Linked DNA regions of Homo sapiens: region 1 is linked to region 2. Evidence: fine-mapped expression QTL. A gene starts in region 2. The other region holds a variant in brackets. All regions are shown on one strand. Distances are between the middles of the regions. Region 1 has its middle 3.3 kb from the start of LINC01620. Region 2 holds the start of SERINC3 (serine incorporator 3).

Evidence for each region. PIP is the estimated chance that this variant, and not a neighbour inherited with it, causes the effect. A credible set is the group of variants that fine-mapping cannot tell apart.
Region 1: its variant is the best candidate, but not a certain one, in a credible set for the expression of SERINC3 in monocytes (Quach 2016, PIP 0.88).

The regions. Positions count from the first base shown.
Region 1 is chr20:44,466,489-44,470,886 of GRCh38, reverse strand. It overlaps the pseudogene RPL37AP1. Among named protein-coding and RNA genes, the nearest start is that of LINC01620, 3.3 kb to the right of the region's middle. The variant T/C (reference allele first, on the strand shown) is at 2,506.
Region 2 is chr20:44,520,245-44,524,642 of GRCh38, reverse strand. SERINC3 (serine incorporator 3) reads left to right here and starts at 2,573. Exons shown (of 10, transcript NM_006811.4): 1 at 2,573-2,730. The coding sequence starts at 2,692. RefSeq lists enhancers at 1-348, 2,381-2,675, 2,582-2,891, 2,810-3,362.

The DNA of each region.
Region 1 (4,398 bases), 54 kb after region 2:
GTGACCTCACATGCATCTCTGCGCTGTCACTGGCTGTGTGATCTTGGGCAAATCACATTTCCCCTGGGGCTCAGTTTCCTCATTGGTGAAAATAATACCAGCTGGGGAATTCTGGAAAGATGGAGGCAATAATGCCTAGCATAGATTTGAATATCCCCAAATCCCCAAATAAAAATAGAAAAAAATTCATAAACACATTTACAACAAAACTAAGTGACAAGGCATCTTCATGAACTCCAAAAAACGTGTGGGGACAAATCACCAACAGCTACAAGGCCTGCATGCCATTGGCATCTCTGTGCAGTAGAAACAGAAGGGAAGCAGCAAGGTGTCTGGCGGGCCTGAGACATGGAGAGTGCTAAAATTGCAACATGTATTCACGTGTTGTTGGGAAAACAGCAGCTGAAACTGGAAAGCGTTTGCCAACTCCAGTAGTGGGCGAGTGTAAGGTGTTTGCCACACAACCTAAGGTTTAAAGGAGTTTTTAACCCCTGTGAATTACTGAGTCATTTTAACCAGTAATTATAGCATCTTTCCATTTTATCAGCCCCTGTATCCTTGAAAATGAAAGATTCCAAGTGTGGAAGAAAGGAACTACAGGTGTAATACAGAATAGATTCCATAAACATCCTATAAAACTCTATTTACATTGGATATATCAATGTGAACTCGAAACTATTTTTAAAGGAAATGTATATGCGTGTATTCATATATATAATACCTAGTTCTAGCTATTAAAAAGACTTAAACCATAATCAATCTTGTAGCAATGAGCATATCTTGCACCCAGATAATAGTTTTGATTAATACAAATAAAAAGACTTCTTGAAGAAATTACTCATTCCAGATCTGTAGCAGGAAATATACAAAATAAGCCTGGAATATCTTGTCACGCCAATTAACAAGGAAGCTATCGAAGGCTACCAGGGTCACACCAAAAGGACTTACAAGCCAGCCTGTGGATGAAACAATTTTAGCTGCAACAAAGACAATACTTGCAGTTGATTGAAACTTATCAAATATGTTTAGCCGGGAGTGGCGGCTCACGCCTGTAATGCCAGCACTTTGGGAGGCTGAGGCGGGCGGATCACCTGAGGTCCGGAGTTCGAGACCAGCCTGACCAACATGGAGAAACTCCGTCTCTACTAAAATACAAAAATTAGCCAGGTATGATGGTGGGTGCCTGTAATCCCAGCTACTGGGGAGGCTGAGACAGGAGAATCTGTTGAACACGGTAGACGGTGGTTGCAGTGAGCCAAGAAAGATCATGCCACTGCCTGGGCGGTTGAGCGAGACTCCATCTCAACAAAAAATAAATAAATAAAAATAAAAAGTGGACTCAACTAAACAATAACATCTAGGAATGCACACTCAGATGATTAAGTCATGAAGAAATGCAAGGAAGTAATTAATAGTCGGATTAGTGATTATTTTGGGGGGATGGGCTGTGATTGGTATGGAGTACCTGGTGAGGTGGGGAGGGGAACCCTGAGGTGGCTGAAAAAATTCTGTATTTTGACCGGGGTGGTGGTTACAGGGTGTTTGCCTTGATATAACTCACTAAGCTACAATTTTTTTTTTTTGAGATAGTGTCTCACTTTGTTGCCTGGGGTGGAGTACAGTAGTGTGATCTCAGCTCACTGTGGCCTCAGACCTCCCTAGACTCAAGTAATCCTCCTGCTTCAGCCTCCTGAGTAACTGGGGCTACAGGTACGTGCCAACCATGCCTGGCTAATTTATGTATTTTTCGTAGAGATGGCATTTCAGGTTTTGCCATGTTCCCCAGGTTGGTCTCAAACTCCTGAGCTCAAGTGATCTACTCACCTCGGCTTCTCAAAGTGGTGGGATTACAGGTGTAAGCCACTGCACCTGGCTGCTACAAATTTAATTTGTGTGGTTTTCTGCAACTGTTTTGCTCTATAATATAAAGGTTTTAAAAAATGAGGACAGCAACACTTACTTCACACTATGTGTGTGTGCATATGTGTGTTTACATGTACATATACATGTATCTAAATGTATGGTTTCTGTTAGCACCAGGTATGTAGGTAGATGCTCACTAAATATGACTTCCATGTGAATTTTGTTCAAAACACTGACCCGTGTGATTTCAGCACCATTACCGACATTACTAACTTGTGTGGCTAATTAAAAATAGTTCATGCTTCCCAACTGGGGCAGAGACTGGAAAAATAAAACAAAATAAAAAATCGTTAATGGTTATTAGGTGATACTATGTGCCAGGCACTGTTTCCAGTGCAACTAATCTAATTGAATCCTTATAACTGTATTATGATTATTCCCATTTTACAGAGAAGAAAACTGAGGCTTAGAGACTTTCCCTGTGGCCACACAGGAGGTGGCAGGGCAGCCTGTTTTGTTTTGTATTATTTTGTTTTGAGGCAGCGTCTCACTCTGTGGCCCAGGCTGGAGTGCAGTGGCACAATCTTGGCTCACTGCAACCTCTGCCTCCTGGGTTCAGGCTATTCTCTTGCCTCAGTCTCC[T/C]GAGTAGCTGGGATTACAGGGACATGCCACCACGCCCAGCTAATTTTATTTGCATTTTTAGTAGAGATGGGGTTTCGCCATATTGGCCAGGTTGGTCTCGAATTCCTGGCCTCAAGTGAGCCACCCGCCTTGGCCTCCCAAAGTGCTAGGATTACAGGCATGAGCCACCGCACCTGGCCAGTAGCCTGGTTTGGAACCCAGGCAGTCTGGCTTTCAGCTCTGCCCTCTCATCCACTGTAGCATATGTACCATACTGTTTTTTACTTGGTGTCTAGTGCCCCTGTTTGCAATAATAACTCCCCCTTATGGAGTGCCTGCTAATATGTGTGCCATTCTTTGACATTCACTACCCGAATCTCACATCAACCCTGGAAGGTGAAGGTACTTGTTAGTCTGCATTTGGTGGCTAGGAAAACTAGAACTCAGAGAGCTGAAAAACTTGCTCAAAGTAACAGAGTAAGTAAATGGCAGTAAGTGATGGAGGAGGAGTTTGAATTGGGGACGGGGAGGGTTCATACTCTGACCCTTGGGATTCTAAAGAACAAAGTGTCCTATACTCTTAAACAGATGCTCATCTGATGGGTCTGACCCAGTTTGAGGTCATGCGTTGCCCAACCAGTGGTCCGGAGCCTGGCTTGGCTTGAGAAGTGTCCAGACGCAGGCTGGGGGAAGTCAGAGGCTTCGCAAACACCAGACATGTTTGACCCCAATCAGAGGGTCGTGCAAAGCTTGTGACCCCGGGCCTGGGGTTCCCTAAGGAGCGAGAGACTCCTGTTTCTCCATGTGCCAGCCTTGTGCTCACAAGCTGCAGAATCAGGTCCTAGAACGAAGCTGGCCACCTCTCGGGACAGGGTAAAGAGATGCCCATGGGTTGGCTGTGCAGATTTCCCAGAAGTGGGAAGAACCTGGCTGTGTTTTTGTGGTCACACATTGATTTCCTAACCTGAGTCAGCATGGCTGCTTGGAGGTACAGTATGTCCTCTCTGTTCCCAGGGGCCCTGGATCCCAGCCTGGCTGAAGCATTTCCAAAACAGGGCCTGGAATAGTGAGGGAAACGGAAGGGGTGGAGATCCCAAATCCCCTCCGTCAGTACCAGCCACCCACCGTTGTATTAAAAACGCCCAGCATGGACTGAGTTCTTACCAGGTGCCAGGTCCCGTGCTAAGCATGTCATATGTATTCACTTAACTAACCTTACAGAGATGCAATGGAGTAGAGGCTCTTCCATTTAACAAAGGAGTAAACAGACTCAGAGAAGCCACATCACTTGTAAATGGTCCCACGGAGATGGAATTTGCAGGTCTGTGATTGTGGAATTCTGGAGTGTTAGCTCCGCAAATTCACTACTTCACTCAGCCCTCACCACAAACCCCCACCCAGTAAGGTGCTGCCACCCGCAGTAAGGATATGAAAAAACTGAGGCTGGGGGTGGTGGACATGACTTGTAAGATGTTTCTAGAAAGCTCTGCTGTGACAACCAGTAACTGTTTTTTAAAAGCCCAGTCCAACTCTCTGGGCTCGGACCTAGTTCGCGGTGACATGGCCAAACCTACCAAGAAAGTCGGGATCGTCGGTAAATACGGGACCCGCTATGGGGCCTCCCTCTGGAAAATGGTGAAGAAAGTTGAAATCAGCCAGCAGGCCAAGTACACTTGCTCTTTCTGTGGCAAAACCAAGATGAAGAGATGAGCTGCGGGGATCTGGCACTGTGGTTCCCGCGTGAAGACAGTGGCTGGCGGTGCCTGGACATACAATACCACCTCCGCTATCACGGTAAAGTCCGCCATCAGAAGCCTGAAGGAGTTGAAAGACCAGTAGACGCTCCTCTACTCTTTGAGACATCACTGGCCTGTAATAAATGGGTTAATTTACGTAACAACAACAACAACAAAA
Region 2 (4,398 bases):
AAGATCTGCTGTCCTCGCTTTGGCCAAGTAGAAGTGACACACTCAACCAGTTAGGGCCAGAAACACTAAGAGATGGGGGGATCCTACATGTGGGAGGACAAATGCTTACAGGTAAGAAAATGAAAAACTGTTCAGCTGACAGCTAGACCTAATGTTTCTAACTGAACAAAAACAGTGATCACAGAATATAAACAAAGATCAGACAAGACCACCATGTAGTTGGATCAAGATACAGACAAAGCCACTCTGGTACCGCAGATAGGACTCAACATCTTCCAATTCTGACTAATAAATGAGTGGATTTTGCTTCTTTTTTTGTAACCGAGCGAATTATAGAGAAACGCCACACTCTGAGACGAATTCAGGAGTCCTTTATTAGCCGGCAACTGAGAGATGGCTAGTGCTTAAAATTCTCTCGGCCCCGAAGAAGGGGCTAGATTTTCTTTTATACTTTGGTTTAGAAAGGGGAGGGGGAGCCTAGCTGAGGCAATCTTACAGAAGTAAAACAGGCAAAAAAGTTAAAAAGACAAATGGTTACAGGAAAACAAATAGTTCCAGGTGCAGGGGCTTTAAATCCATCACAAGGTGATAGATGTGGGGGCTTTGGGTACCATCAACCGGACAAAAATGCAGGGGCTTAGGGTACTATCAACCGGGTGAATTCCTGGAAACTGCAGCTATCGCTTGCCACAGTATCTTATCAGTTAATTGCATTCTTTGATGTGCTGGGAGTCAGCTTGCACAAGTTAAATCCTTGAGGAAGTGGGATGGGTAAGGAGCGGCAAGTGAAGGAGCCAAAATGGAGTTTGTCTGTCTCCCTCAGCTAAGAGAGAGTCAATTCAGGTTAAGACAAGGTAGGGTATCACACTTTTCCAAGGACTAATCTAGCCTTGTTTTAATCCTTCTTCCTTCTGGATAAAAATTTGTAAGATACCTAATCACTGAATTGCCTCTACTCCTTGACTGTGTCCAATCCAAAACTGTTCTCCTCCTCCTTAAACTCTCCTTAGATTTAGTTACCCAGCATAAACCCAAATCCTAAAATAAGTTCTCCCCAGTCACCTCTTACCAAGACACCTTATATTTTCTCTGATATGTGTTCTCCCTTTCTGAACAAGCTAAATAAACCTAATTCTTTTTGACTACAGGTATGTTTCTGGTAGAATTCGATCTGTAAAATTTATCACAGTCAGCTCTCTTAAGTCCAGACCAGCAATACTCAGACAGGAAGAAGCAAGAATGTTAAGGACTACCTGGAAAGTTCAGTGGTCCTGAAGCAACTTGACTTGAGCTGGTATTTGTGTATGTGTGGTGAGGAGAGGGATCTGGGAAAAGAGAGGTAGGAATTATTAAATGTGAGTAGTTCTCTTTCTTCTTTCATCAGCCCTTTTCATGGCCTTGGGCAAACTTTGAGCCTCATTCCATTTCTGTAAAAGATGAATTTGGAATACATTTTCAAGGAATCCAGGAAATAACATCCCCAAATATGCCACACTGGTATGATGATTGCTTGGGGAACAGCACATGGAGAGAGGGGCTTTTCATGAATTTCCCTTATCAGACTAAAGGCTGACAATCCAGAAGGAATTCAATTATGAATCCCCTTCCAGAGAGTTTTATCTATCAGGGAAGATTAACACACCACAGGAGAAGATATTGAAGTGTGACACCTTGTTGTCCGGACATCATCATTGTTTGCCACATTCCACCTAAACTATTATATGTGTAAGTAAAAAATGTTTTCATTTTCTTCTTTAAGTGAACTCTCAAATTTGACATGTATTTTGAAAGGAATATTTACATCACTGCTTAAATGGGAAATCAGCATTGCTCGGAAGAAATGAAAAGGTTATTGCTAACACACACCTCAAAACAAAACAATATTTTAAAACTGCAGGCATGGTTGCCTGTTTGAGAGATCTGGAAAATGAAGGCTTTACTCTGTTAGAAAGGGAGATAAATACTAGAAAAATGTTAAATACCATACTGGCCTCAAACAACTAGCCTGTTGGTTTGAAATGGGACGTTCTCACTCTGCTGTTTAATATCGCTTAATGTCCTTCATGCACCCTTAGAGCCATTCATTTTTCCCAAATGGGGTGCATCCCACATTTTAGGATACGATTTCCATCGTTTCTAGGTTAATTTGGACTCATCCTTTAGTTCGCAGATTAAAAAATAAATCCTTCAGAGAAGCCTTCCAAGACTACTGCCCAGCTAAATTACTTTCCCCTTACAATAGGAGGCACTAAATACACCTTTATTGAAAGCCTATTCCCCCATACTACTTCATCGTATTCATTACATTGGGGCACGGTGCATTTATGTTGTCAGATCTCCTATTAACTAGAGAATAAATTCTGAGCGTACTGTGCCTCTCTGTACACTTCTGTAACTTCCAGATCTTTGCACAATGAATACAAATGATGTAAGGAATGACACCTTCACAGTTCCTGCAACCCCAGGATGGTTTAGCCCCACCTTCCCCCTCAGCCAATGACAGGCGCCCCCCTCTGCCGCTCCGGTCGCGGACGGTGGGCGGGGCCACGCCGTGACGCATCCGTGCGTCTGTGGAAGGCTGCGTTTCCGGCCTGAGAAACCGTCATGTTTCTGGGGAGTCACCTCAGCTGGCAGTTACCACCGTGTTAGAAAGCAGCCTCAGGACCGGCCACCTCCATCACTGGCGTCACCATGGGGGCTGTGCTGGGTGTCTTCTCCCTCGCCAGCTGGGTGAGTTCGGGGTCCCGAGTCCTCGCCGGACCTGCGGTTTGCGGGGAAAGGCCTCGAGACCAGAGCTGCACGGGCCTTGGCTCCAGAGGCTCTCGGGATGTCAGCAGGCCCTGGGCTACAGAGGGTCTCCGGGGCCCCAGACGCAAATCCGCGATACCCTCAGGTCCAGCTTAGGCGGCTCGCCCTCCGGGTTCCTCGGGGAACGGAAGAGGCTAGGCCGCCATTGTTTACAATTCGGATGGCTCCGCCCTGCGAGGCTTCCTGACTAGGTTCCTCTGGAGCTGGAGAGGGACCAAGGAATGACAGCTCCCAGCGAGGGGCTCCGGTTCCTCCCGAAGCACCTCTTAAGGTGCCATCATTTAGTTCTAGGTGGCTCAAGTAATATTTTTATCCCCTAGCACGGGATTTGCCAAAACTACAGAGTGTGTGGCAAAGCTGGGGTTTTAGCGGAGGCTTGTCTGCAGTTCAGGTGCAAGGGAAAGAAGCCCTTGTGGATTGTTATTCAAAATTGGAAACCAGGGCCTGAATATTTTGGGACTGCTGTAAGTCATTTATCCGAGGATAATCACCCCAGCATTCCTCTCTTCGAGAACGATTGTGACAGTGAAGTGAAGGTTTAATCACCTTGTAAACTGTAAACATTTTAAAGAGAAAATTATAGGGCCTATAAAAGAATATGCTGAGTTCCCTCATTTACCCACTTCAGAGGAGCGTGATTCCTTGATTCCTCATTCTCCAGCTGATTTAATTGACCAAGTGTGTAGAAAAAGCACACTCAGTTTCTCCTGCTGTACTCACAACACACTTTTGACACCTGATGTGTGGTGTGTGGGGATTTTCCCCCAAACATCAGGCAAACAGTCAGCTCTGCAGGGGATGCCAACTTGGTGCCCTACAAGTCAATTCCGAAGCTCTCTACTTGGAGATAGCATCAAATCACACAAGTGGAGGGCTCAGTCTCACAAGACTGTGCCCACTTTCTGTGCCAATGGCAAGCCTCAGGTTGTTTTACCTGTGCTTCTGACCGGCCACCTATAAATCAAAGTTCCCGTGACCTCCCTCCTTGGCTTTGATTAATTTGGTCACAAAACTCAAGGAAACATGTTTACTGGTTTATTATAAAAGTATTTTATTTTGTGTATTTATGTATTTTTAATTTTAGATTCAGAGGGTACATATGCAGTTTTGTTACATGGGTATATTGCCTTATCGTGAGGTTTGGGTTTCTAATGATTCCGTTGCCCAAACAGTGAACACAGTATCCAACAGGTAGTTTTTCAACCCCTATCCCCCCACCGTCCTTCCCCACTCTTGGACTCTCCAGTGTTTATTGTTGCCATCTTCGTGTCTGTGTTCCCAGTGTTTAGCTCCCACTTGTAAGCGAGAATATGCTGTATTTGGTTTTCTGTTTCTGTATTAATTCACTTGGGATAGTGGCCTCCAGCTGCATCTTTGTTGCTGCAAAGGACATGATTTTCTTCTTTTTTTATGGCTACTATTAATATATTTTTAAAGATACAGATGAAGTGATATGTAAGACAAGGTGTAGAGGGAACGGGTCTGGAGCTTCCATGCTCTGTCTGGGGCAGTGGCGCCATCTCGGCTCTCTTCAACCTCCAAGGGATTCTCATGTTTCAGCCTCCCGGAGTAGCTGGGATTATAGTGTAT